4 linked regions of the Homo sapiens genome follow. The protein of the gene in region 4 interacts with the protein of the main gene of each other region in a pairwise test. Each region holds a gene or a part of one and is shown on either strand. Other genes may lie near its edges.

What was found.
Region 1: the proteins of CEP44 (region 4) and ERAL1 interact in binary tests that used the Homo sapiens proteins (3 or more experiments, as listed by UniProt).
Region 2: the proteins of CEP44 (region 4) and KIAA0930 interact in binary tests that used the Homo sapiens proteins (3 or more experiments, as listed by UniProt).
Region 3: the proteins of CEP44 (region 4) and LRRFIP1 interact in binary tests that used the Homo sapiens proteins (3 or more experiments, as listed by UniProt).

The regions. Positions count from the first base shown.
Region 1 is NC_000017.11:28,851,105-28,858,040, reverse strand, and holds the start of ERAL1 (GTPase Era, mitochondrial), read right to left. Parts: upstream 3,026-6,936; 5' UTR 3,007-3,025; coding exon 2,724-3,006; intron 1,778-2,723; coding exon 1,650-1,777; intron 1,537-1,649; coding exon 1,459-1,536; intron 103-1,458; coding exon 56-102; intron 1-55. UniProt on the Homo sapiens protein: Probable GTPase that plays a role in the mitochondrial ribosomal small subunit assembly. Specifically binds the 12S mitochondrial rRNA (12S mt-rRNA) to a 33 nucleotide section delineating the 3' terminal stem-loop region.
Region 2 is NC_000022.11:45,237,875-45,245,308, forward strand, and holds the start of KIAA0930 (uncharacterized protein KIAA0930), read right to left. Parts: upstream 3,021-7,434; 5' UTR 2,830-3,020; coding exon 2,766-2,829; intron 1-2,765.
Region 3 is NC_000002.12:237,630,576-237,637,601, reverse strand, and holds part of LRRFIP1 (leucine-rich repeat flightless-interacting protein 1), read right to left. Parts: intron 1-7,026.
Region 4 is NC_000004.12:174,300,887-174,307,912, reverse strand, and holds part of CEP44 (centrosomal protein of 44 kDa), read right to left. Parts: intron 5,875-7,026; coding exon 5,727-5,874; intron 4,211-5,726; coding exon 4,064-4,210; intron 3,667-4,063; coding exon 3,544-3,666; intron 1-3,543. UniProt on the Homo sapiens protein: Centriole-enriched microtubule-binding protein involved in centriole biogenesis. In collaboration with CEP295 and POC1B, is required for the centriole-to-centrosome conversion by ensuring the formation of bona fide centriole wall.

The sequences.
Region 1 (6,936 bases), on a different chromosome or scaffold from region 4:
CCCCACCCTCTTTCAGTACCTCCCCGCCAATCCACCCCAATTCCACCACCATTACCTCTTCTGTTTACCAGGACTGATAATGCCAGGTGTGTCAAGTAGAATCTAAAATCAGGAAAGTGAGATACCCAGACCCCAGGAGAAAAGATTATGACTGGGAAGTCAGAGAGAGGCTACCTGTGATGTCAGGAGCCTGCCCTCCCTTCTCAGTCAAACTATTATTGACTTTAGGTTTGTTTTTTGTTTTTTTCTGAGACGGAGTCTCACTCTGTCATCCAGGCTGGAGTGCAGTGGCACAATCTCAGCTCACTGCAACCTCTGCCTCCCGGGTTCAAGCAATTCTCCTGCCTCAACCTCCTGAGTAGCTGGGATTACAGGCGTGCACCACCACACCCGGCTAATTTTTGTATTTTTTTAGTAGAGACAGGGTTTCACCATGTTGGCCAGGCTGGTCTTGAACTCCTGATCTCAAGTGATCCGCCTGCTTTGGCCTCCCAAAGTGCTGGGATTACAGACGTGAGCCACTGCGCCCAGGCTGACCTTAGGTTTCTACCATTCTGCTTTGATGGGATCTGGGAGAAAGATGATGACTGTGAATATAAGGAAGATTAGGAAGCAGTAAACAGAGAATGAAATCGGCTGGGCGTGGTGGCTCATGCCTGTAATCCCAGCACTTTGGGAGGCCAAGGCAGGCGGATCACCTGAGGTCAGGAGTTTGAGACTAGCCTGGCCAACATGGTGAAACCCCATCTCTACTAAAAATACAAAAGTAGCCGGGCGTGGTGGCGCATGCCTGTAGTCCCAGCTACTCGGGAGGCTGAGGCAGGAGAACTGCTTAAACCCGGGAGGCAGAGGTTGTAGTGAGCTGAGATCATGCCATTGAACTCCAGCCTGGGCAACAAGAGTGAAACTCCATCTCAAAAAAAAAAAAAAAGAGAGCGAGAGAATGAAATCTTTCTGACTAGATGTCAGGGGAGGGCAAGGTAGAGACAGAACTGTACCATGCCTAAAGGAAGAGGAAACCCCCTTTCCTGGCCAGGCGCAGTGGCTCACACCTGTAATCCCAGCACTTTGGGATGCTGAGGCAGGCGGATCACGCGGTCAGGAGATCGAGACCATCCTGGCTAACACAGTGAGACCCCATCTCTACTAAAAATACAAAAAATTAGCTGGGTGTGGTGGCAGGCGCCTGTAGTCCCAGCTACTCAGGAGGCTGAGGCAGGAGAATGGCGTCAACCTGGGAGGTGGAGCTTGCAGTGAGCCAAGATCGCGTCACTGCACTCCAGCCTGGGAGACAGAGTGAGACTCCATCTCAAAAAAAAAAAAAAAGAAAAAGAAAAGAAACCCCCTTTCCTCACATAAATGAATGTGACCATCATTTTCTTCAAGGCTGATGGTAAGGGAGACCCTCTTAGCTTCACCCTCTGTCCTGTTTCAAGGACTCCCTTTGTAGGTACCCACCACCTGGGTCTCCTTCTCTGTGATGACCCCCAGAGCTTGGCAGCGAGTAGTATGCACCTTCCTGGAAACAGGGAACACCTGCCAGGAACAAAGGAGTCTCAGTGAGGTCCCAGATCCCTCCAAGACCATCCTTGAAGGCATGGCAAGAAGTAAAAGATGTAAAGGGTAGGATGGTCAAGGGTGTAGCATACCTTTCGGCCCAGTAGCTGGTTGGAGAGTGTTGACTTCCCTGCATTCGGGGCTCCCAGGAGGACCACTCGTAGGACCCGGGAATTCTCAGGCATATCAGGGTGATGGACCAAGAGGACATCCTGCTCATCTATGTGCAAGTGGGAAGAAGCATGAGACACAGTGGAATCTGGATTTCCTGTCAAGTGCTTGTTCCTGCCCACCCACAAAGGGAGCAGGGGTACAAAATTAGTGCACCAGGTTGAAGTCACCTAGAGCTGACTTTGAGACTTTGGCCCTTAATTTACATTAATTTATAAAGTAACTCCCTGAGCCCTTTAGTTTTCTCATATGTAAAAGTGAGTTGATATTAACAGTACCTACTTACCAGCTTATAATTTTTTTGATGACTAGCAATTGTGTAAAACAACTCAGCACAATACCTGGCACTTAATAATTACTGCATGTAATTATAATGTATAGCTGTGCCTGAGAAGTGAATGTACATGAAAGCAAGCTGGATTACACAAAGCCAGATATTTCCTCAGCTCTCATTCTCTCACCCTACTAAGGGTGCTATGAAGGCCCTGCAAGCTTTCCCAGTCTTTTTTTTTTTTTTTCCTGAAGGAGGGACGGGAGGAAGGGCTAAGGGTCAAGAAGGGAGAGGGCCCAGTCTTTTTATATTATCTTCTTATGACACCATTTTGCAATGACCAGTTTGTGTCCAGTCTCCAATACCGGACACTGTTTGAAGAATAAAGTGTGCTGTTTTCCAGGTGTAACTGTGTCTTAACAAGAAGATGAGGCCCAACATGCATTTACTGGATCAAATTTGCTTCCCATGTCGGGGTGCAGAGCCATAGTTCCACTTTGTGGCCCTTCAATCTCATGCTCTTTAGTGAGCGTCTCTGGTTGTGACCAGATCGTTTCCTTCTCCCACTCAAACTGTTATTTCTCTCCTGAGAGATTTTTCACTGCTCCTCCCTGTCAGGGCCTCAAAATTGTTTTCTATAAAATAGAATCAAAGACAGTATCCCCAGAAACCTTTCAATACTAAAAACATGACAGTTCCGAGCAAACCTATCAGGGCGCTTTACCTCTGTTCATGGACACCGCGGGGACGCAAGGAGTCACCGAACTGTCGGGCTGAGAGAATCCGAGGAAGTGGTCCAGGGCAGAGCCCTGGCCATTACTGCGAGAAGCCGAGGCCAAGCGGGGACCAGAGAAAGCGGACCCCGCGACGCAGGACACGCACCTCCGTTGGAAGCCTAAGAGTGAGGAAAAAGGGATCACCCGCTCCCTCGCGACATGAGGGCCCACCTGCCAGACTCTTAACACCGATTGAACAAGCCTAGCCCCGCGCCAGCTGGGGGCAGCCATTACAGCCGCAAGGCACTGCGGGAACCGACCAGGAGCGCTCCTACGATTGAACAGAGCGGCTGACGAACCAGCGAGTAGGAGAGAGGTAGGTCTGCCCAAATTGAAAGCCGAGACACATGGGATGTGGGCGGGAGGAGGAATTGCTCTGGAGACTGGTGGAGGCTAAGGAAAGGGGAAAATGTGTATTTAGAGTCTGTGCAAGCATGACGGTAGTTTTGGACTCCCATACACAACGTATTTTTTTCTTCTGCCAAAGTTTTGTAAACGGCCCTTCTGGCCATGTCTCCTAAAAGACTACATTTCCCATGAGGCCAAATAGCAGAAATCGTCCTCCCATCGAGGGAGGAATGGTTGTGGGAGTGGGAGGGGGCACTGTTCCGCCTGTCCCCGTAAGGGTTTTGTTGTTGTTTGTTCCTAGTCCTTTCCATCCTTTGGCCTGCAGGATCCTCTCCCAGCCTTAATTTGGCTTGCCCTAGAGGTCAGCGGTGGCCCCGGGCTGTCTGCACCTTTGCTTTAGGCTAGGTTCCTGGAAGGAGTGGTCCTTGGGTCGGTGTTTGGGATGAAGAGCAGGTCTGGATTTCCCTCCTGTAAGCCTTGGCTACTGTCTACTATCTGAGGTCATTCCTTTATGGAGAACAACCAGAGGGTTTGCAAAGGAGGAAGAAGTGGCTTAGCCACCTAAGGTCTCCTAGACCGCTCTAGCAGCCGGAGAAACTCATTTACCTTGCTCTGTTTGAGGCCTTGAGCCCTCTTCATCCTTTGTAGCCTCTAAATCAAACACTTGAAACAGAGAGCTGGGCGCGGTGGCTCACGCCTGTAATCCCAGCACTTTGGGAGGCCGAGGCGGGCGGATCACGAGGTCAGGAGATCGAGACCATCCTGGCTAATACGGTGAAACCCGGTCTCTACTAAAAATACAAAAAATTAGCCGGGCGTGGTGGCGGGCGCCTGTAGTCCCAGCTACTCAGGAGGCTGAGGCAGGAGAATGGCGTGAACCTGGGAGGCGGAGCTTGCAGTGAGCTGAGATTGCACCACTGCACTCCAGCCTGGGCGATAGAGCGAGACTCCATCTCAAAAAAAAAAAAAAAAAAAAGAAACAGAGATAAACTTTGGTAGAGGGGGTGTTGAGGAAGGAAGGTTCTTAGAGTCAGTGCTCATTCTGTCACCCAGGCTGGAGTGCAGTGGCATGATCATAGCTCACTGGAGCCTGAAACTCTTGGGTTCAAGCGATCTTCCAGTTTCAGCCCTCTTGAGTAGCTAGGACTACAGGCACATGCTAACATGCCTGACTATGGAGGAAGATGTATAAAGCATCCACTAGCAAGCTCTGTCCTGTGCTGGGAATACATCAGTGAACAAAACAGACAGAAATCTCTATCACGGGATTTCAGGGACCCCATCTCTAAAATAACAATAGCAACAAAAATACAACACAATACAGTATAACAACTATTTATATAGCACTTACATTGTATTAGATATTATAAGTAATCTAGAGACTTTAAGATGACTTAAAGTCATCTCTTACTACAAGAGAATCAGCAGATTTTGGTATCCATAGGATGGGAGGGTGGAAATTATGGTATCTAAATTCCCTGGGAAGACACCACTGTATATTCTGGCTATCCTCAATTTCTCTTCTCCCATTCTTTCTTTTATTTTTATTTTTTTGAGACAGGGTCTTGCTCTCTCACCCAGACTGGAGTGCAGTGGTGCAATCATGGCTCACTACAGCCTCGACCTCCCAGTCTCAAGCGTTCCTCCCACCTCAGCCCTGCTAGTAGCTGTGACTACAGACCTGCCGCTGCCATGCCTAGTAATTCTTTTTTTTTTTTTTTTTTGAGACAGAGTTTCACTCTTGTTGCCCAGGCTTCAGTGCAATGGTGCAATCTTGGCTCACTGCAACCTCTACTTCCCGGGTTGAAGTGATTTTCCTGCCTCAGCCTCCCGAGTAGCTGGGATCACAGGCATACACCACCATGCCCGGCTAATTTTGTATTTTCAGTAGAGACGGGGTTTCTCCATGTTGGTCAGGCTGGTCTTGAACTCCCGACCTCAGGTGATCCGCCCACCTCAACCTCCCAATGCGCTGGGATTACAGGCGTCAGCCACCTCGCCCAGTGCTAATTTTTAAATCTTTTGCAGAGACAGAGTCTCACTATGTTGCCCAGGCTGGTTACGAACTCCTTGCCTCAAGTGATCCTCTGCCTTGGCCTCCCCAAGTGCGAGTTTACAGGCATGAGACACCATGCTTGGCCTTTCCCCAGATATTTTTTTCTTCAGTTGGTTGAATTCCTGGATGCTGAACCCTTGGATATTGAGGACCAGTATTGAGCAGGAGAGGGCTGTGGGGTTAACAGAGGATTTTCTTTTCTTTTTTAAGAGGAAAATTTTATTCTTACTGAGATGGAGTCTGGCTCCCCTAGGCTGGAGTGCAATGGTTGAATCTCACTGCAACCTCCACCTCCCAGACCCAAGCAATCCTCCCTCTTCAGCCTCCCAAGTAGCTGGGACTACAGATGCGGGCCACCACATCCGGCTAATTTTTTGGTAATTTTTTTGTACAGATGGGGTTTCACCATGTATTCCAGGTTGGTCTTGAACTCTGCCTACTCCATCTCCCAAAGTGCTGAGATAACAGGCGTGAGTCACTGTACCTGGCCTGAACATTTTTTTTTGGAGACAGAGTCTCGCTCTGTCGCCCAGGCTGGAGTGCAGTGGCACGATCTTGGCTCTGCCTCCCGGGTTCAGGCCATTCTCCTGCCTCAGCCTCCCGAGTAGCTGAGACTGCAGGCGCCCACCACCATGCCCGGCTAATTTTTTGTATTTTTAGTAGAGACGGTGTTTTACTGTGTTAGCCTGGATGGTCTCGATCTCCTGACCTCGTGATCCACCCGCCTTGGCCTCCCAAAGTGCTAGGATTGCAGGCGTGAGCCACCGCGCCAGGCCACGTTGCTTTTTTTAATTAAAAAAAAATTTTTTTGAGCCACAGTCTCACTCTGTTGTCTGAGCTGGAGTGTAGTGGTTTAATTTTGGCGCACTGCAACCTCCACCTCCTGGGCTCAGGTGATTCCCCCATTTTAGCCTCCCAGGTAGCTGGGACTACAGATGTGCCTGACCACGCCCAGCTAATTTCTGTTTTTGGTTTTTTTTTTTTTTTTGAGATGGAGTCTTTCTCATTGCCCAGGCTGGAGTGCAGTGGTGCGATCTCAGCTCACTGCAACCTCCACCTCCCTGGTTCAAGTGATTCTCCTGGCTCAGCCTCCCGAGTAGCTGGGATTACAGGTGCCCGCCACCACACTGGCTAATTTTTGTATTTTTAGTAGAGACAGGGTTTCGCCATGTTGGCTAGGCTGGTCTCAAACTCCTGACCCGGTGATCTGCCCGCCTTGGCGTCCCAAAGTGCTGGGATTACAGGGATGAGTCACTGCACCTAGCCTAATTTCTGTATTTTTTATAGAGACAGGCTGTCACCATGTTGCCCAGGTTGGTCTTTTGTTTGTTTGTTTGTTCGTTTGAGACTCCCAGGCTGGAGTGCAATGGCATGATCTTGGCTCACTGCAACCTCTGCCTCCCGGGTTCAAGCTATTTTCCTGCCTCAGGCTCCCAAGTAGGTGGGGTTACAGTCTTCTGCCACCACGCCCGGCTAATTTTTTGTATTTTTAGTAGAGATGGGGTTTCACCATGTTGGCCAGGCTGGTCTCGAACTCCTGACCTCAGGTGATCCACCCACCTCGGCCTCCCAAAGTGCTGGGCTTACAGGTGTGAGCCACCATGCCTGGCTTGGCCCAGGCTGGTCTTGAACTCCTGGGCTCAAGTAAGCCATCTGCTTTGACCTCCCAAAGTGCTGAGATTACAGGTGTGAGTTACTGCCCCTAGCCTTGGAACATTTTTTTGTTTTGTTTTGTTTTGTTTTGAGATGGAGTCTCC
Region 2 (7,434 bases), on a different chromosome or scaffold from region 4:
TAAGCTCACCCCTCGCTGAACATCAAATCTCTCATCTGAAAAATGAGCCCTTTTTTTTTTTTTTGAGACAGAGTCTCACTCTGTAGCCCAGGCTGGAGTGCAGTGGCGTGATCTCGGCTCACTGCAACCTCCGCCTCCCGGGTTCACACCATTCTCTTGTCTCAGCCTCCTGAGTAGCTGCGACTATAGGCGCCCGCCACCACGCCTGGCTAATTTTTTTTTTTGTATTTTTAGTAGAGACGGGGGTTTCCTCATGTTAGCCAGGCTGGTCTCAAACTCCTGACCTCATGATCCGCCCGCCTCAGCCTCCCAAAGGGTTGGGATTACAGGCATGAGCCACCACGCCCGGCCAAAAATGAGGCCTTCTAAGAAGCTAAGATTCCCATCTCCGTGGCCCTCCACGCCCTTCATCTGCCAGTCCAGATAATAATTTTCTCACTTGTTCACTAAATGTTTACTGGGCACCTGCTCCGTATGTGCCCCATGCTGGGCACCAAGATGAATCAGACTGGGTAATGCCTTTGAAGGCCTCACCTGCTAACTGGGGAGACAGCACACAGACCATGACAAGGCCACAATCATCCTGATTGTCCCAACAAACATGTGCCTGGCACAAAGAGAACACAGGCAGAACAGGACTGTGTGCCTGGGAGCTGGAAAGAGTTCCCGGAGAGGCAACACTGGAGCTGAGACTTAAAGGAAAACTTAGAGATGCTTGTGGGGCACATGAGTAGGGGCGGCTTTCCGGGCAGAGAAAACAGCAGGTTTTCTCTGCTTCAGAGCCCTGCAGGGACTGAGTTCAGCAGCAGGGGAAGAGGGGAGACCTGGCACGTGCGGGAGGCCTGGAGAAGAGACAAGGAAACAGCGTGAGTATCGTAGGCACATAAAGACCTGGCTGGGGATATTCAGGGAGTGGAGGGCAGGCTCTGAGGTCAGGCTGGCAGAGGGTCAGTCCCGGCTATGCTGCTATGCTGCTTCCTCATTGGTTGTCCCTGGGCAGGCTCTCTCTCTCTCTCTCTCTCTCTCTCACCCTCAGGCTCTTCATCGCTGATATGGAGATAATACTGCTCCCTGGCAAAGTCAGCATTGTGTCAGGATTAAATTTGCAGCATGAGTAAAGCACCCGGCACATAGTAAGTGCTCAGTAAATGCTAGGTGCCATTTTCACTGTTCACTGTTCTTCTGGGAATGGCCCTGCAGCCTCCTTGCGGGAGGGGCTGCCTAGAAGAGGAGAGAAGGTGCTCACAGGTAAAGGTGGTCAGAGGACAATAGGTGTGTGTGGACAGGGGAGTGGGGAGGGACTGCTTGAAGCTGCTGAGCAAACAGGGCCAAGTGACCTGCAGCAGATGGTCCTTCAGATGCATCCCAGCTCAGATATTCGGTGCCAGCTGACAGGTGGGCCTGCCACGGTGGCACACAGTAGGTGCTCAATGAATGTTTGCAGAATGAATGAATAAGCACGCTCCAACTTCTGCTCAAAAGTAAATCTTGACACCTTTTCAGAAAGAAACCATTGAAACCTTGTCAACCATTGAAGTTCTTGTCCATTTCACTTCATAAGCACCCCCCACCCCACCCCTGCATGAGGAAAGGCTCGCCTGGGCAGGCTAGGCTGGGGCCTGCTCACTGGGAAGCCTCCCATGCTAAGCCTGCCTCCTACAAAAGGGATTCAAATTTACTTCCTCTCTCCACTCCAGCCTCCAGGGTGTGGCCTGCTGAGGGGCCCTGAATGCCTGGGACTGCCATGTCCCTGCAGCTGTGTGACCTTAGGGGGATGCACTTGTTCTCTGGGACTCAGTTTCCCCAACGGTGAATGAAGGGGTGAATCTGGAAGGCTGACATTCCGTACTCAGCAATGCTGTCACCCCCTCAGAAATCCCCAGCCTAGCCTGGGGGTGGGGTGGGGGGTGGCTGACAATGTGGTATGAAGTCATTCCCTGCACGGAGGAGGGAGGGGTCTTTTCCATGGAGAAAATGACGAACCTGAGACGACAAAAGAGGGGGCTTCTCCTGGGCTTCAGTCTGGGCATGATCCATCAGTAATGGATTACCTCACTGGCTGGGAGACCCCACCCACACCTGCAGTCCCAGGCCCTTCCAAACAATACGAGGCACCCCCATCCCACGCCCCCCAGCAGATCCATGACTTAAAGCCCAGAATCACACCGAGAGGCAGCAGGCCCTGCCCCTCAGCCAAGCGGGCGGGTTCGGGGGGCCATTGCCCAACAGGTCCCTGGATACAGCTAAGGGATGAGAGGGGCCGGTGGGTGCGGAAAGACAAAGGCTTCGGGTAGCAGGAGACAGTGGCCAGGGCACGCTCGCAGCGAGGTCCACCCAGAGCCCAACGAGGGCCCGACCCTGCCGCGCTGGGCTAAGGGTGTACCCAGATCCCACGCCCACACTCCCTACCGCGGTGCTGAGGGCCCGGGGCGGGCTTCCTGGAGAAGGAAGAAGACCCGCAGAGACACGAAGAAGAAGGAGGAAGATGAGACAGACACCCGGACGGACTGACAGGGGGAGACGCCGAATGAGACCCGGGCACAGGGGTGCGGGGCGCTCGTCGGACGGAAAGCAGAGACAGACCCAGATGCAGGGACGGTGGGGGGGGGGCCATGGAGGAAGACAGGGTACCCAGGCAGACCCAGAGACCACGACACCCGCGCAGAGACAGAGATGCGCGGGGCGCACAGAAACACGGACGCGCAGAGGCGGCCCCGGAGACGCTCACCTCTCCCGGCCCGGCCTCGCCCCCGGGTCCCACTCACCGAGGCCGCAGACCTCGCGGCGCAGGCTAAGACGGCCGCGCTCCTCCGCTATGGCACGCAGCATGTGCTGCAGCGAGCGCTCCTCGGCCTCGGCGCCGCCCGCAGGCTCGGGGGCGGCGGCGGCGGGGAGGGCGGGCGGCCCGGCCCGCAGCCCGCCGCGAGCACCAAGGAAGCCACAGTCCGCCTCTGTGCGCGTCGCCGTCGCCGCCGCCGCCGCCACCACCCGCCAAACACAGCACCGGCGAGCGCACCTCCGCGCCGCCGCCGCCCGCGCGCCCCCGGCTCCGCTCGCCCCGCCCCGGCCCGGCCCGGCCCCGGTCCGGCCCCGCCCCTTCCCCGCCCCGGCCCCGCCCCTGTCCCCTCCCGCCCCGCCTCTGAACGGCCCGGACCCACCCCGGCTCCCTGGCCCCGCCCCCTGACCTCCCTTGCCCCGCCCACTTCCAAACGGCCAGTCTCCGCCAATCTTCGGATGCCCAGGACAGCCTCCCTCAAACCGCTCGCGGGGTCCCGCCTCCACCCAAGGTCCTAAACGCCCCACCAACGGGATCACGCCTCTGAGCCCCTCCCGCCGCCCCTTCAGGGCACCTCTCCCCTCCCCCGCTGCTACCCCACGGGATGTGTACTTTGTCACCCGCCCTGTGCGTTGCCACCTCCACCAAGTCCCCTCGGCTGACTTCTGGGAACTTCCTCCGCAGAACCCCTCAAGAGGTCACCTGCTCCCAGAAGGTGGTCTCCTGGGGGACACCGTGGCAAAGCCCTTCCGGCCCCCCTCCTCTGCACCTGGCACAGTGCAGAGTGTTGCGCCTCCATTTCCTCAGCTGCACCATGGGGGACCTTTCCCTGCCTTGCCTCCCCAACATGGGGGAGTGTTGATGAAGGGGGAGGTATGAGGTTAGCTGGGCGTGTCATCCTGATGAAGCCAGGTCTGGCCAGCATCCCTCCGTGTGCTAGTTGTGGCTGATACAGGAAGACACCGGAGAAGCAGCCAGTGGCCTCCCCAAACCTCACGCCTGGTGGTCCATTTCCAAGAACAGGGGGAGATGGAGAGACCAGCATTGATTTCCAGGTCTCTCCAAAGCTAAATCTACATCACTCCCTGCATTCACAGCCTGTGTGTGGACCCCAGACCCATCAAGGTCCCCCTTTCCCCTGTCTGGAGTCCTCTTCTCCCCATTCCTGTGTAACTTGCTTCCTTTGTGTCCCGAGTGTCACATCCTCAAAGAAACTCCCCTGACCGCCTTCCCTCCCTCTCTCTTCCCTTAGTCTGTTTCTCCTTCACAGGGTGACACTTACCTCCTCCCGACACATTGGATACCTATGGGTTCACTTGTTCTCTTCTCTACCGAGGGAGGGGCCTGTCTACTACACAGCTGTTGTCTCAGTACCCAGAACATTGCCTGGCACACATTAGATGCCCAATAAATAGATATGGGCTGCAGGCTGGGCACAGTGGCTCATGCCTGTAATCCCAACACTTTGGGAGGCCGAGGTAGGTGGATTGCCTGAGGTTAGGAGTTCCAGAACAGCCTGGCTAAAATGGTGAAACCCCATCTCTACTAAAAATACAAAAATTAGCCGGGCATGGTAGCACACATTTGTAATCCCAGCTACTCTGGAGGCTGAGGCAGGAGAATTGCTTGAACCTGGGAGGCGGAGGCTGCAGTGAGCCGAGATCCCGCCACTGCACTCCAAGCTGGGAGACAGAGCAAGACCCTGTCCCCCCCCAAAAAAAAAGAAAAGAAAAGAAAAAAAAATGTAGGCTGCATAAACGAAGAATGATGGAGAGGTCTGATGGGGACGCAGGGGTCTTCCTGGGAGGCACAGCAGGAAGGAGCCGTGGGGTTGGGCAGAGCCCCAGAAGGGAGATGGGATCTGGATCCTGCTTCAGGCCTCTGCCCCAGTTTTGTGCCACTGGCCCCTGAACTCTTCAGAGCAGAGCCACATCTGACCCCTCTGTGTCCCCAGTGCCAGGCCCAGGAGGGCTCTGTAGAAAGGTGAGCAGTGAGGGAATGAAGGAAGTGCGCGACCAGCCTCACGTGTATTTCTCTTCTCCAGTGGGCCTGCATCCCTGTCTGTAAAGTGAGGACACTGGCATGAGGGCTGAGGCCTCTGGTTCTGCGTCTGGAGAGCTGGGGTTTGGGCTGGTGGACGTGAGAACTGGGGATGGTGGATCAGACAGCATGAGCGAGTGCTCCAAGGCTGTCAAGTCCAATAGTCACATCCCTCTTTGCCTCCCCAAACCCCACAGCACCCCCTGCCTGTTCCCACTGCCATGCGTTTGCCCACAGTGTTCCCTTGGCCTGAAATCCTTTCTGCTCCGCAACTGTAGTTGCCTTTGGGACCCACATTGCCTGGTTACGCTTGGCCAATGCATTGTGTTCTTATTTGCTTCACAAACCCCCTTTCCCCACCCCACCCTCCTGCACACAGTTGCCTCCGTGTATTCTGTGTCATATGACCAGCATTGAACCAATTCATCCCACTTCCCGTGGCACCCAGCCCAGGACTGGTGCCAGAAAAATATCTGTTGAATGAATGAGTAAACAAACATCGCTTGGGCTCTCTCCTTTGTATTTCAATAATACTCCAGGTATTACCTATACACAGAATTTTCTTTCTTTCTTTTTTTTTTTTTTTTTTTTTGAGGCGGAGTTTTGCTCTTGTTGCCCAGGCTGGAGTACAATGTCGCGATCTCGCCTCACCGCAACCTCCACCTCCCAGGTTCAAGCAATTCTCTTGCCTCAGCCTCCCAAGTAGCTGGGATTACAGGCATGTGCCACCACGCCCGGCTAATTTCATGGAGATGGGGTTTCTCCATGTTGGTCAGGCTGGTCTCGAACTCCTGACCTCACATATACACAGAATTTTCTAATGTCAACAAATGCTAAATCACACTGTGCATGGGAAGAGGGCAGGAGCAGGACTTCTGGGGCTACAGAGCATGTTCTGTTTCTTGATCTGGGGGCTGGTTACACGGGTGTGGTCAGTTTATGAAAATTAAAAGGCTGCACAGCTGGGCATGGTGGCTCACGCCTGTAATCCCAGCACTTTGGGGGGCCAAGGCGGGCAGATCACCTGAGGTCGGGAGTTCGAGACCAGCCTGGCCAACCTGGCGAAACCCCATCTCTACTAAAAATACAAAAATTAGCTGGGCGTAATGGCACACACCTGTAGTCCCAGCTATTCTGGAGGCTGACGCAGGAGAATCGCTCGAACCTGGGAGGCAGAGGTTGCAGTGAGCCGAGATTGTGCCACTACACTCCAACCTGGGCAACAGAGCGAGACTCCATCTCAAAAAAAAAAAAAAGTTAGAAAATCAAAAGGCTGTGTGCTGTGGTTCAAACCTGTAACCACAGCACTTTGGGAGGCCAAGGCAGGCAGGAGGCTGGCTTAGGCCCAGGAGTTTGAGACCAGCCTGGCCAACATAGCAAGACCTCATCTTTACAAAAAAAAAAAAATTAGCCAGGTGTGATGACACACGTCTGTGGTCACAGCTACTCAGGAGGCTGAGGTGGGAGGATTGCTTGAGGCGGGGAAGTCAAGGCTGCAGTGAGCCGCGATCACACTGCTGCACTCCAGCCTAGGCAACAGAGTGAGACCTGGTCTCAAAAAAAAAATATATATATATGTATATATAACATATATATATGTAATATATATAATATATATGTTATATATGTAATATATGTATGTAATATATATATAAAGCTGGCATTTTGTAATTATTTATGCACTTTTCTGTATACAAATATTCAGAATATAAAATAGAATTGAAAGTATATAGGCAGAATAATGGCCCCAAAATGCCCACACCCTAATTCCTGTGCTAATTCCTGTGAATATGTTGCCTTACCTGGCAAAATGGACTTTGCTGACGTGATTTTTTGTTTGTTTGTTTTCGAGACAGGGTCTCACTCAGTTGCCCAGGCTGGAGTGCAGTGGCACGATCTTAGCTCACTGCAACCTCCACCTCCCCAGCTCAATCCATCCTCCCACCTCAACCTCCTGAGTAGCTGGGACTAAGGGTGTGTGCCACCACACCCGGCTATTTTTTGTATTTTTTGGTAGAGACAGGGTTTCACCATGTTGGCCAGGCTGGTCTCGAACTCCCGACCTCAAGTGATCTGCCCACCTCGGGCTCCCAAAGTGCCGGGATTACAGGCATGAGCTGCCACATGGGGCCTAAGAGTACAGACACTGAGATAGGGAGACTATCCTGGGTTATCCAAGTGGGCCCAATCTCATCACATAAATTCTTAAAATCGGGGAACATTTCCTGGCTGTGGTCAAAAAGAGATGTGACAACACAAGAATGGTCAGGTAAATGCAATGTTGCTGGCACTGAAGAGGGAGGAAGGGGCCACAAGACAAGGCATACAGGCAGCTTCCGGAAGCTGGAAGAGGCAAGGAAACAGATTCTCCTACAGTTGCCCCCAGATATGACACAGCCCTGCCTGCACCTTGACTTTAGCTCAGCAAGACCTCAGTTGAACTTCTAACCTACAGAACTGGAAATGTGTTAAGGCAATAACGTTGTAGTAATTATTACAGCAGTGATACCAATACGTGGGCAAGCCTGAGATGTGGGCATTGTGTCAGCTCTCCACCTAAGCGCTTCTATCCCTGAGGTTTATTTTGCAAACACTTAGAACAACAATCAAGCAAAGTT
Region 3 (7,026 bases), on a different chromosome or scaffold from region 4:
ATCACATTCTGCCTACCTAAACTCTCCAGGTATTTTATTTGTTTTATGGAAAGTATATCTCAGATCTTAGAGAACTTTCCAAGCAAATAAATGAATTATTCCTTTGCTTTTTGTCTTCTTCTTTTTCTCTTTTTGAGATGGAGTCTCGCTCTGCTGCCCAGGATGGCGTGCAGTGGTGTGATCTTGGCTCACTGCAACCTCTGCCTCCTGGGTTCAAGCAATTCTCCTGCCTCAGCCCCCCGAGTAGCTGAGACTACAGGTGCAAGCCACCACATCTGGCTAATTTCTGTATTTTTAGTAGAGATGGGGTTTCACCATATTGGTTAGGCTGGTCTCAAACATCTGACCTCAGGTGATCCACCCGCCTTGGTCTCCCAAAGTGCTGGGATTACAGGCACAAGACACCATGCCCAGCCCAATTCTTGATGCCTGAAGCTATGAAAATCTCATATTTTTTTGTTTTACTATCTTTATTTGCTCAGCTAATTTGACATTTTATTTCGCTCTCAGTAAAAGAATACCATAATGATGGGTTCCTTTGTTTGAGCTGTGTAGACACTAGAGGTTAGCCGTTCTTCCCTGGTGTATGTCTCAGATTAATTTTCAACTTTCTTTTCCAGCCTTACTAGTCCCTTAATCAAAAACAAAACTCCACCTGCAGGCACCAAATTAGAGAAGTCTGACTGGTTAACATTAAGCAATGTTTCCTCCTAACACTGACATGGTGGTCAAGGGCACTGGCCTCAAAGGCAAGAGACTGGGTTCAAATCAGAGCTGCTTGCCCCTGCCTGAGGAACCACTGTCTGGTACCAACACTTCAGCCGCCCTGTGTGGCTTCCTGTTCACACTTTGTGACATCTCTCTTCCTGGCCTTTGCTCAAATTGTAGTCACCATGTTTAGTGCCTCCCTCTAAAATATGAAAGGGTAGCTGAGGATCACCACACATCTGAGAAAGGCTCCAAGATGACAGAGGCCAAAACACACAAAGGAGGAAAAGAAACAGACCAGGATGCAGGGAACAAAAAAATTTTCAGGAAAACCCCCAAATTAAGTGAATTTGCTTAATATCCTTAGAGTAGTAAGAAAAGGTACTGCATTAGTGAGTCAAGAAAGGATGCTATAGAGATAAAGAACAATAAAAAAACTTAGCAATTCAATATAAAACAGGTAAACTTAGTAGAGGGAGTGGATGGTAAAGTTGAAGAATCTTCCTTGAAGTATTACCAAAAGACAAAAAAAAAAAAAAAAGAAAAGAAAGGAAAATGAAAAATTACTTCTTTTTCTGTTCTGTCTTACAGAAATTACTGTAAGACAGAACAGAAAAAATGATGGGGCTAGGAAAAAATTCAAGAAAATTTCCCAGAATTTTAGGATACAAGTTTCCAGATTGAATGAACCCAATGAATGCTCAATAAGTGGGGGAAAAATCCAGAATTCTGAGAATAAAGAGAAGATCCTAAAAGTTTCCAAACTTTTTCTTTTAAATTTTTTTTTTTTTTTTTTGAGACAGAGTTTTGCTCTGTCAACCCAGGCTGGAGTGCAGGGGTGTGATCTCAGCTCACTGCAACCTCTGTCCCCTGGGCTCAAGTGATCCTCCCACCTCAGCCTCCCAACTAGCTGGGACCATAGGCACAAGCCATCATGCTTGGCTAATTTTTGTATTTTTAGTACAGAAGGGATTTCACCATGTTGCCCAGACTGGTCTCAAACTCCTGAGCTCAAGTGATCCACTCACTGCCCTCCCAAATTGTTGGAATTACAGGTATGAGCCACCACACCCACTCACTTTTTCTTTTCTTTTTTGTGGAGATGGGGGTCTCACTATGTTGCCCAGGCTGGTCTTGAACTCCTGGGCTTAAGCGATGCTCCTGCCTCAGATTCCCAAATAGCTAGGACTACAGGCATGCATCACCATGCCCAGCTAAATAAAAAAAATATATTTTTAAAGGAAGGGTCCTACTTTGTTGCCCAAGCTGGACTTGAACTCTTGGTCCTAAGCTATTCTTTCACCTTAGCCTCCTGAGTTGCTGGAATTACAGGTGTGAGCCATAATGCCTGGCTCCTAATTTTACTTTTTTGATATTTATTAGTTTATTTTATTGACTAGTTAATACAGTCACATGGTTCAAATATCAAGAGCATGAAGAGTGGCACTTGACAACCTGCTTCCACCTCCATCCCCACACTCCTTTCATTGTGTTCTGCCAGTGATTTTTATTCAAATGCAGGAAAATTGCAGCCTTTCTCACACAAGGAACAGCATGCTATCTTTATTTTCTGTATATTACTTTTTCCAATTAACAATACTTACTGGAAATTATGTCAAAGAAGACACAGAGTTCATCATTTTTTGGAAAATTATTTTTAACCTAGAACTCTATACACAACCAAAGTATCAATCAAGTATGAATGTAGAATAAAGACATTTTCAGACATGTGAATACTTAGAAAAGGCATTCTTGCTCCGAAAGCTACTGAAGGATGTGTTCCAGCAAAATAAGACAGCAATCCAAGAAGGCAGATAATATGGAATCCAGAAAATAGGGACCTAACAACAACAATAAAAAGGGGGTAAAAGAAATTCTCAGAATGGTGGCAGAGGGAATGGCAGGTGCAGGAAACCCTGAGGAGAACATCCAGACCAGACTGGATCTAGAGGACAGAGGTCTCTAGTGGGTAGATTTCCATGGGAGAATAAAATGGAATTGATAGATTATCTGCTTTGTTTAATCATATAGAACATAGCATTTTGATGGGTTCTATTGAAAACTTTATGGAGATATGTAGATATATAGATAGATAAGCTAGATATGTAGGCAGATGAGCAATGAAAAAGAAAATAAATCATTAACTCTAGAAGAAGCAGAAAGTTGTATAAGGAAAGAAAGATTATAGTACACTGCTTGGCTCTGCAATTGACATTATTTACACAGCTGGCAAGATCATCATCATCACCAGCATTTACTGAGCATTTACTATGTGACAGTCATTGTTCAGAGGTCTTTTTGTGAAAGATCTCATTTACCCTCATAACTGCCCTGGGTGAAGTATACTCCTAAAACTTTCCCATCTTACCTATGGGGGAACTGAGGCACAAAGTTGATAAGTAACTTGCCCTAAGTCATGGTATAAGGGACAGAATCAGGATTTGAACCCAGGAAATCTGATTCTAGCACCCATATTCTTAAGCAGTCTGTCCTGCCAGTGAATATTCATTTAGCCCCACACTACAATGAACTATAGTGTGATGCAGAGAAGGAAAGTAGGGAGCTGGCCTGAACTGGGCCCATGCACACCAAGTCCCGTCCTTCAATGCAGGAGCCAGCTGACAGCATCTGCAATTGATAAACTAATGTGTAATACATATGTATGTTATTTATAAACAAGGAGATCATTACCAGATCATTGAGGGTCTTGTAGCTTGTTTAAGGACTTGGGTTTTACGGAGTGATACAAGACACCCTTGGAAAGTTTTTATCAGAGAAGTGGCATGATCTGACATATTTTAAAAGGACTGCCCAGCCTACTGTGTGGGGAACGGCCTGAGAATATGGGTAAAAACATATATTACTCTGATGAAATAAAAATCAATTTTTTAAAGATGAAAGGATGGAAAAAGAAGATGAGAGATACAGTAAGGCAGAGACAGATATGGGACTCTCTCTCCTGAAATGTCACCCCTGGTGGTTCACAGGTCAGTGGGGGACGACATGTGCCAGGGATAGGAAGAAGGTGGCTTGCCTGCAGGACATAGCCTGAATGGGGTCTTGGAGGGAGCTGAGGGGCTGATCCAGGAAGCAGCCTGGGCCATGAACTGGCAGCCCCTAATTAATAGGTGGCCTCAGCCATGTCCCATGGTGTCTCTGAGTCTGTTTTCTCTCTGTCAAACAGAGAGACTCGGAACTCTTTTCACAGGATTTAAACAAACTATGGGAGTAAAGCTTCCAGAGTACCTGGCACACCTTGGGTCTTAGAAGCAACCTCCATTCGCCCCTCTCTCCTTTCCCGTCTCACACTCACTGGGGACGGGCAGGGCTCACGGGGGACAGGCAGGGCTAGAAGCCAGGTCATGTTCTCCACACACACATCCCAACCCTGAGTACCAGGCCAACGAGTGGCTCAAGAGTCACCCAGAAAAGGAAGAAGGGAGACAGCTGGCCCTCTGACAGAAATAGCTGTGGGGTGGGGCCCAGGGCCGTTGGGGACCAGCAGGCCTGTCCACAGCTGAGTTTTCTGTGGACTCAGAAACCCAGAAGCATCTTTTGGGAATCGCACAAACAGCCCAAGGTCACAGGCACATTGTTCACGCCCTCCAACAGCTCAGACTGTTGGTAAAAATCCGTCTGGAACACCAGTCTTGTCACATTCCTAAAACCTTGTAGACGATCTGCCAAGATGGGTGTTTGGCTTAGGAGAATCAGCTGCAGAACAGCCCTCAGTGACTCCACTGCGGCTGGGTTCCAACTGGAGGCAGGATGTTGTTCAGGCTGGACAGTCCTGTGTCCTGCCGGGCACTGAACGCCCCTCACCTCTCCCAACTCCTGTGGAACAAAGGGGCAGGGCCCAGCCCCAATGGCAAACCAGTGTCCAGCAGCACTCAGTTGGTGTGCAATCTGCTGGCCAGCCTCAGAAAAGCAAATTCATAGAGAAAAAAGTCATGAAATTCACTTTCAAATCAAGTGAAATAGGCCTAGGGACAAGTCTGACATCTTGGTTGCGTGCAGGTGAATTCTGGCCCCAGGGTCACCTCACCAGAGGGCAAGGGACTGCATTGGGGACCCAGATTTGCATCTTTGCAGCTGGGCTCAGTCCTGGACTCTCCACCCCAGAGGAGCCAGGTCAGGTTAGTGCTGGAGAGAGGTAGAGCGAAGTTTCCACACTGAACCCCACTTCTGGGCTGTTCTGGAAAAGAACACGTGCACCCCATCCCCAGCTTGGTTCTCCAACAGCCTTGAGGAGAAGAGAGACAGGCTCCCTCCGCACAGGTTGATATAGGAGGGCTATTTGGGAAGGACAGGGAGAAAAGATGAATGAAAGGGGGACTTAGGATGAAAAGACCCGATATTTACGAACTACCTGAAACAAGGGGCATGGCTTTATGTTGGGTTCCAGAAGCAGAGCCCATGGCAGGACTGGATGTGAGCCCTGTCCCAGCAGGGGCATGAGGGGGGCAGGCCAGTCAGGGAAGGGCTGGGGAGGGAGGTGGTCTCGGCAGGAGTTGGCCTCAGCCTGGCCCGCAGAGAGCTCCGGAGCAGGAAACGTACCACAGAATTGGTTGCATCTTGAAACAAGCCTGGGGGACATTTTGTGACCTCACAAAATGGTTACTTGATGGCTGCAGGCTGCCTTGGGGGCAATGCAACCCCTTCTCCACAACTGGAGTCCTTGGGGGCTGTGTGACCCCTTCTCCACAACTGGACTCCTTGGGGGCAGTGTGACCCCTTCTCCACAACTGGACTCCTTGGGGGCAGTGCGACCCCTTCTCCGCAACTGGACTCCTGTGTGGCCGTGGCTCAAGTGAAAGGCGGTGGCTGTGAGGCCTGAACCAACAGCACCCGCAGGCCCACGAGTCAACTTGGGGCCGGTGAAGCAGCCGGGTGGGGCAGCAGTGCCCCTGCCATGGATCAGGGCCCGAGGCCGCAGGCCACAGAGGGGCCAGCTTGGAGAGGAGGCTGCAGAAACAGTTATGGGGGGAGGGCCTCCGTCCTGCTGGGTGAGGAAGGGGTACCTATGGCACCACCAGGGGATAATAAGCTCACCGCACTGTCTCAAGGCCCCACGGTGAGTTCCTAATGCAGCCTGCGCAAATGACTGTTCCTGTTGGGAAAAACATTCTTCATTTGAGAGCAATACTTTGAATTGCATGGTGAGACCAGTATCGCTTTACTCAGCTGCAGAGTGCTGAATGAGAAGTTTGGGATGCTACCAAAATGCACCAGTAGAATGTGAAATGCGGTAGGAGAGGAAAATCTATCTGCGTTGGAAACACCCCTCCCCAGAAGTGGGAGGCGCAGCTCATGCCTTTGGTGCTAATGAGCTTCTGCAAGTGCGTACTAAACCTTTCTCCTGATAACATCCCGCCTGAATTCCACTGCAACAAGAGAGTGAGAAATAATTGACTTGCGATAATACAGCATTTGCAAATAACTCCCTTTACTATACACGCTTGCCTAGAGTTTAAACCATCACATGGAAGCAGGACACCGGCTGCAGAAGCAGAAATGCACCCTCCAAAGGCTGCCCCCACCACGAGTCCTGCTTCTACCCAGAAGAGTGCAAAGCCCTGCCTGCACAGGGCAGCCTAGCTCTTCCCCTCGCTCCAGCGAACTGGAACCCACGTCCCTGCCAGGTGACTCAGGCTTCCCAATGACCTCAGCCCAGAATTTTCCACTTACTCTCCAGAAGGCATGTTCTTGGGTGCCAGGCCCAAGTGGCAGCCCACTCCCTCCCACTTCCTTGAAGCCTCCCCAGTTTCCATTCAGGCCCCCACCTTCCCAAGTGTTTCAGGGAGGCCGGCTCTCCCCAGTCCCAGGATGAGTCTGACAGGTCACAGGGTAGACCCACCCCCCTTTGCCACAGGCACTGAGCCCCTAAGTCCATGGTCCTTGTCAAAGAGCTTGGTGCAGGAGTGGCCAGACAGACTCATGAAAGTTTACCAGGGAGATACTGCTAGCTCTCTGGAGAGAGCCACCAGAAGAGACGGTGTGTGGGCTCCACAGTGGCAGCCCGGGAAAGCCAAGGCCAGCTGGCCTCCATGAAGCAAGTCAGCCTGAGGATGAGGCCACCCACAGAGGATGGCCCAGCCCAACCAGCTGCGCAGGTGCTGTGGGAAAAAGAGGCCGGAGCCACTGGTGAGGCTGGCGGGGAATCCTGCCCTGCCTCCGGGCTTGCTGTGCTCCAGCCAATATACTTCCCCTTGTCAATGTCAGTCCAGTCAGGGTTTCTGTCCCAGCAGCCAAAGCATCTTGACTGGTACATACAGCCTTCAAGAACTCAAAATGCCACTTCCTCCAGGAAGCCACTTC
Region 4 (7,026 bases):
TGGTATCTCATTGTGGTTATGATTTGCATTTTTCTAATGATCAGTGATGTTGAGTTTTTTTCATGTGATTATTGGCTGCATGTATACCTTCTCTTCAGAAGTAGATGTTCATATCCTTTGTCCACTTTTTAATTAGGTTGTTTTTTTCTTGTAAATTTGTTTAAGTTCTTTATGGATGCTAGATATTAGGCCTTTGTCAGATACAAGTTTGCAAAAATTTTCTCCCACTCCGGAGGGTGTCTGTTTACTTTGCTGATAGTTTCTTTTGCTGTGTAGAAGCTCTTTAGTTCAATTAGATCCCATTTATCAACTTTTGCTTTTGTTGGAATTGCCTTTGGCGTCTTCGTCATGAAATCATTGCCGACACCTATGTCCTGAATGGTACTGCCTAGGTTGTCTTCCAGGGTTTTTATAGTTTTGGGTTTTACATTTAAGTCTCTAATCCATCTTGAGTTGATTTTTGTGTATGGTGTAAGGAAAGGGTCTAGTTTCAATCTTCTGCATATGGCTACCCAGTTATCAAAGCACCATTTACTGACTAGGGAATCCTTTCCCCATTGCTTGTTTTCATCAGGTTTGTTGAAGATCTGATAGTTGCAGGTGTGTGGTCTTATTTCTGGGTTCTCTATTCTCTTCCATTGGTCTATGTGTCTGTTCTGGTACTAGTACCATGATGTTTTGGTTACTGTAGCCCTGTAGTATAGTTTGAAGTTGGGTAGCATGATCCCTCCAGCTTTGTTCTTTCTCCTTAGGATTGCCTTGGCTATTTGGGTCTTTTTTGGTTTCATATAAATTTTAAAGTAGTTTTCTTTAGTTCTCTGAAGACTGTCAATGGTAGTTTAATGGGAGTAGCATTGAATCTATAAATTGCTTTGGGCAGTACAGTCATTTTAACAATATTGATTCTTCCTATCCATGAGCATGGAATGTTTTTCCATTTGTTTGTGTCATCTCTGATTTCTTTGAGCAATGGTTTATAGTTTTGCTTGTAGAGATCTTTTGCCTCCCTTGTTAGCTAGATTCCTAGGTATTTTATTCTTTTTGTGGCAATTTTGAATGGGAGTTTGTTTGTGATTTGGTTCTCAGCTTGACTGTTGTTGGTAGATAAGATTGCTAGCAATTTTTGCACATTGATTTTGTATCTCAAGACTTTGCTGAAGTTGCTTATCAGCTTAAGAAGCTTTTGGGCTGAGAAGATCCTCCTACAATTATTTTAAACATACAGCAATTTTGCAAAAGGAACACCAATCTTTAAAAATTAAAAAAAGTTTAAATTATCACATATAATATATATATCAAAATATTACCATTACTAACATTACCAATAATTTATGTGTGATGATAAAATTGGGGTTATGACTTTTAAAACAATTCTTACATTTTAGGACAAGCGCTGAAATATTTATTAAATTATGTCTGAGATTTGATTTAAAATAAAGACAAAACAAGATTAGCAAAGAGTTGATAAATTGCTGAAACTGGATGATGGGTATGTTTGTAAATGTTTGAAATGTTCCATAATAAAAAGTTATTTTTAAAAAAGATTGCCAAATAATTCACTTATAAATAATCAAAAACTGGCTCTATGAGTAGGGCTCATTACAATTTTTCTGTTAAACAAACTGCAATTTATTAGACCTTCAGCTAACAATTCAAACCTAATAATGACAACGAAGAAGTCCTGACAAAAAAAGCATTAGGTCACGGTATGCATTTACCTAGAAATCCTCTACCTGCTTCCTATTCTACAGTTTGCATACACACTATAAAAACATATGTGACTCAGAAGCGCAAATAGGCATACTATATAAGGCACTGGGATAGGAGACAATTTGCTTTAATATTGACTCAACTTTTGCTTGTAAACAAAGAAATGTACTTGTAGACTCTTTTCTAAATCTGAGAACTTTTAATACTTATTCAAATTTCTGATAAAGATCTGGTATAAATTTTAATAGATAACAAAGAAAACTTTGCTTTAAGAAAATTAAAAATAAGTCTAATGTTTTGAAGTTTACATTTTTCTTGGCTAGGACAATTTACACTGTCCCCTCAACTCTCATACTGAAATAGAACATTGAAAAGCACATTATATCAATAAATAATTAATAAGTGCTCACAGTGTTCCTAATCCTGTGCTAAGCAAAATGAAGGTACAAAAAATCAGTATAAGAAAATCCCTGTTCATATATGTTCCTTCTAGTTGGGGAAGAATACAAGATATAAGTCATTTAACAGTTAGAAAATCATAAATAAAACTAACAAGAGTTAGATGAGTTAGAGATGCAAGTGTACAAAAACTACATGCACTTATTCAAAAATGGCGGCTTTGTATCATTCTTTATATTGTCTTCATTACCTAGAGCAAAACAGGTACATTAAAAAGAAGTGGCATAAGAACATTTTCTTATAATAAAATTTCACTTTTTTAAGGTATAAAGGAATAAACATATTTTTTTGAGATGGAGTCTCGCTCTGTCAGCCAGCCTGGACTGCAGTAGTACAATCTCGGCTCACTGGAACCTCTGCCTCCAGGGTTCAAGCGATTCTCCTGCCTCAGTCTCTCAAGTAGCTGGGGTTACAGGCACCAGCTACCACGCCTAGCTAATTTTTGTATTTTTAGTAGAAATGGGGTTTCGCCATGCTGGTCAGGCTGGTCTCAAACTCCTGACTTTAGGTGATCCACCTGCCTTGGCCTCCCAAAGTGCTGGGATTACAGGCATGAGCTACTGTGCTAGACCCAAGAATAAATTTTTAAAATAGATTCTGTTTACATAACTCATGTATTTTGGATTAGGGCAGAAATAATACTCTAGATTATACTTCAGTCAGAAAGTATTCACATCCTTTACTTAATTACACCATTGATAATTCATCTGATATTCTATCATTCAATCAGAGTCTTCTCCAGCTGGAAGACAGCTGAAAATATATTAATAAATAATATTTTAGCTTAAGTCTCCCTTAGTGATAGAAACACTGTAGCTCTAAGTGCATTAGATTCAATTTGCCACAGCTGCTCAAAGCAGATAATGGCAGAAAAATTATCTTTCAAGAAAGAGAAAATATTCAAAATATTAACTGAAAACCAGATTCTACGTGTAGGGACTACCAATTATTGGATAATTCATACTTGGTTACAGAAATATAATGTACATAAATGAATCATTATAACCTATCACTACTGCTAATGTAGGCTCTTCATATGTTCCCATGTTTTAGGAAGACCAGAACACAATTAAGAGCAAATGTAGATAACTGCATAAGATAATCTTCCTAAATCACTACTCTTCTGTTTAGGAAATCCGGCAGAATTAGAAATTAGAAATATAAAGAGAACACGTATTTAATTTTATATTTCTATCCTATTGTTATAACTTCAGGCATACTGCCCAAAAATATATGGCATGCACTGTTAAAAATCAATGAACTCCAATATCTAACTAGAATGTTCATCAGGTGCCAATCAGAAAAGTGAAAACTGTATATTGGATTAATTAGATAACTCTTAAACAATATGATATTTTCTTTGTGGTTGCATACCTTTCCTGAGGTCATAAACCTGCCACTGATATCAACGCCAACAGCCTCTGCAGATATTTTCTCATTGCCCAAAGGAGGTTCTGACTTACCAGAACTGATTTTCTTTCTTTGTTGTGATGGAATCTAAAAAAAAAGGTATTAGTCAAAATAACAAATTTTGTGTGAAAGCATAATTATATATTAAAATTCCATTAACATTTAAATTTTCATATATGAAATATAGCTGACAAATAATGAGACTCTAATGAGACTACATGACTTTTAAAAACTAAGAAGTAATGAAAATGTATTATGTTTGAACTATTAGTTTAACACTAGGAGTTCCCAGTCACAGGTGTATAAAACAAGAGAGTAGTATTTAAAATAAACAACAAGCTTTATAAGGTTACTCAAATCTTTGAATAATACAGTAATTACACTATGAAATAATTTGCTGTCTAGGGTTTTGATTTTATACATTAAAATACTGAGCCATCTATTAATAGCATACATCAGCATTAATATCTATTCATAAAATTACCTTCTGAAGACTGCTTAATTCCTTGTGCTTTTTCATCACACAATTCAAAATATCACAAACAATTTGGATTTTCCATTCTGCAAACCCACATTGGATAAACTGCTTTTTTGTCAAAATTGGTTTATAATTAAATTGATCACGAAGAAGCTGCAGAGGAAACAGACTCTTGTAATAATTGGGAGCAATTTATTTCTAAAATTCCAAATGATAATGCCCACCTGGTCAGGGGAATAATGGCCACCTTTGAGAGGACAAGGAAAACCAAGCCATTAACTAAAGAGTACTAAAGTAATTCATAGGGCTGGTGTTAAGTCATGATCCAGTAAGACAGGTATCAGGTGGAAAACAGGTAGCAAAGGATATGCTGGAGAACAGATGTCTGTCCAGAGAGATGGAAAAATATAGTCAATCATCAAAAAGTGTAAATATCTTCAGAGATATTAGAAAAACTTCTTAGTTCACTAGAATACCATACCAGAGTCAGAAACTATAGTTCTATTTGTTTATAACTCTTCCACTATGTGATTTTTGGATACGTCAGTAGGCCTTTTGGTCTCAATTTTTCATTTGTAAAATGAAAAAAAACACACTAGATCAGTAGTTTCCTAAATCTACTCTGTGGAGCTCTAGAATTTCTTAAAAGTGCCTCTTAGGCTTCCATGGATGTCTTCTGGGATCAAAAGCAAGAAAGAGAAAGATTAAACAGAGACTACATATAAAAGCTCCCATTTCATTGACTGCAACTCTGCTTTTTTTAAAAGACTATTTGAGGCTGGGTGCGGTGGCTCATGCCTGTAATGCCAGCACTTTGGGAGGCCAAGGTGGGCAGAGCACAAGGTCAGGAGATCGAGACCATCCTGGCCAACATGGTGAAACCCTCTCTACTAAAATACAAAAAATTAGCCAGGCGTGGTCACGGTGCACGCCTGTAGTCCCAGCTACTCAGGAGGTTGAGGCAGGGGAACTGCTTGAACCCAGGAGGCGGAGACTGCAGTGAGCCTAGATCGTGACACTGCACTCCAGCCTGGTGACAGAGCAAGACTCTGTCTCAAAAAAAAAAAAAAAATAGACTACATTTGATAAGTGGGTTTTTACCATTAAAAACTAACTTTAATACAAACCACAGTACTTAAGCAAAAATTAATGATAAAAGCAGGGTTTTAAAAAAATCAAATAAGAGATTAAATTCAGTATACACATAGTACAAGTATAAATACTAGGGTAGATACAATATAAGACATGCTCTCAGACCTCAAAGAATATATCAGTTTAATAAAAAAAAAATGTCAGTAATAGTTCCTTCTTACAAACAACTAAATTAACATATAATTCTAAAAAACTGTAAGTTTTATTGAATATAATTACATTACTCTCTAATTTCTGCCAGTATATCAAATTTTACTAAAATTTGATTAAAAAGGGCAAACAATAGCCAACAACAAATATTTACCAGTTGCTGTATTTATTAGAATAGGTAACATTCAAAAAGCAAACATGAATTGCATCTTGATTTCAATAGAGACTACATTTAAATGAGATAAATACAAATGAAAATATCCTGTCAATTGTATATGCTGCATATATTTAAGAAGTTATGACTAAATCATTAATTTTTAAAAATCATTCAATAACTAATAGTTATTGTTTGATAAACTCAAAATACCTTATAGACAGCATCTATAAAGCGCAAGTCATTTTTTGCTATGAGCTCTACATTGGATTCCATTATAAGTTCTGTTACATAAGGTGAGTATGAGGTAAAAGAATAGCTGATGATGGGCAAAGATGCTGCTGGGTCTCCCTTTATCAAACTGTTAGGAAAAAAAGAAAAATATTTTTAATAAGCATTTAATAAGCATAATTCCACAAAGTTGGATAATCAAGAAAATATTAGAAATGTTTATAATAATTTAAAACTTAACACTATAGCTATAATAATTAGGTGATACATGAGACTTTCTAGATTCCATTCCCCATTTGAAACCAGTCTAGCCAGACTACTATGAAATACCACTGTTCGTCTGCTCAAAAAACTTACTATAGGTCTCTAGTACCAACTATTTACCATTGATTTTCCAAAGCTTAGTCTTACGTGATCTACTCCATTTTCTACTACTAATAAAAGCAATGTACCATCTTACAAAATTGAAGTACACTTTATGGTTTTGCAAACACTTGTTCTATTACCTCCTTTGCTCTCTACCACAAACTTCCAAAGGTAAATATTATGAATTCTAAGTTACAGATGAGGAAGATGGGATGGGAAAAAGCATGAACTGTGACTTGGTTGACCAGTCTATTACTTTTCACTTACTGCTCCTTCTAAATCGTATATTATTACCTATGTTAATTCCACCAGTCTAGAAAGGTATCCCACTCTTCTTTGCTTATCCAATTATTATTTATTTTTTACAAATCATTCATCAAATCTCAAGCTTCCCATGAAGCTTTCCTCAACTTTCTGATCTATACTGATCTCTCCAAGAAAGACTCCCAGGCTACTCAGTATCTGCTGTGTCTTTATCTGTCTGGTAGTGTTTCCTGTCTTATTTTCTCAATGTGAAGTACCTTCACTGATTTTCCCACAACAAAGCACAGGAGGTATTTGTTCAATTTGCCAGTTACATTTGTTCAATTGCAGTATTTTGTACTTATATAAAGCAAATGTTTTCCAAAAAATTCAAGATGTTCACATAAACATCCCCATCTCCACCCAAATTTTTAGTAAGACAGAGAACAAATACATGATGATAGCACTGCATTTTGTTTTACTGGACAAATATGAATTATTTCTTTTATGTTTCTTTGAAATACTGTAATATTTCACCCAATCAGAAAACTCCTCTGGCAACCTTGTCTATCTGAAACACAGTCCAAAAACAGGAAATGAAAAAAAAAATACCTTTGAACAGCAAAATCTGTCCATTTTATGCACACTATACATAGATGATAGCCAGGCACAC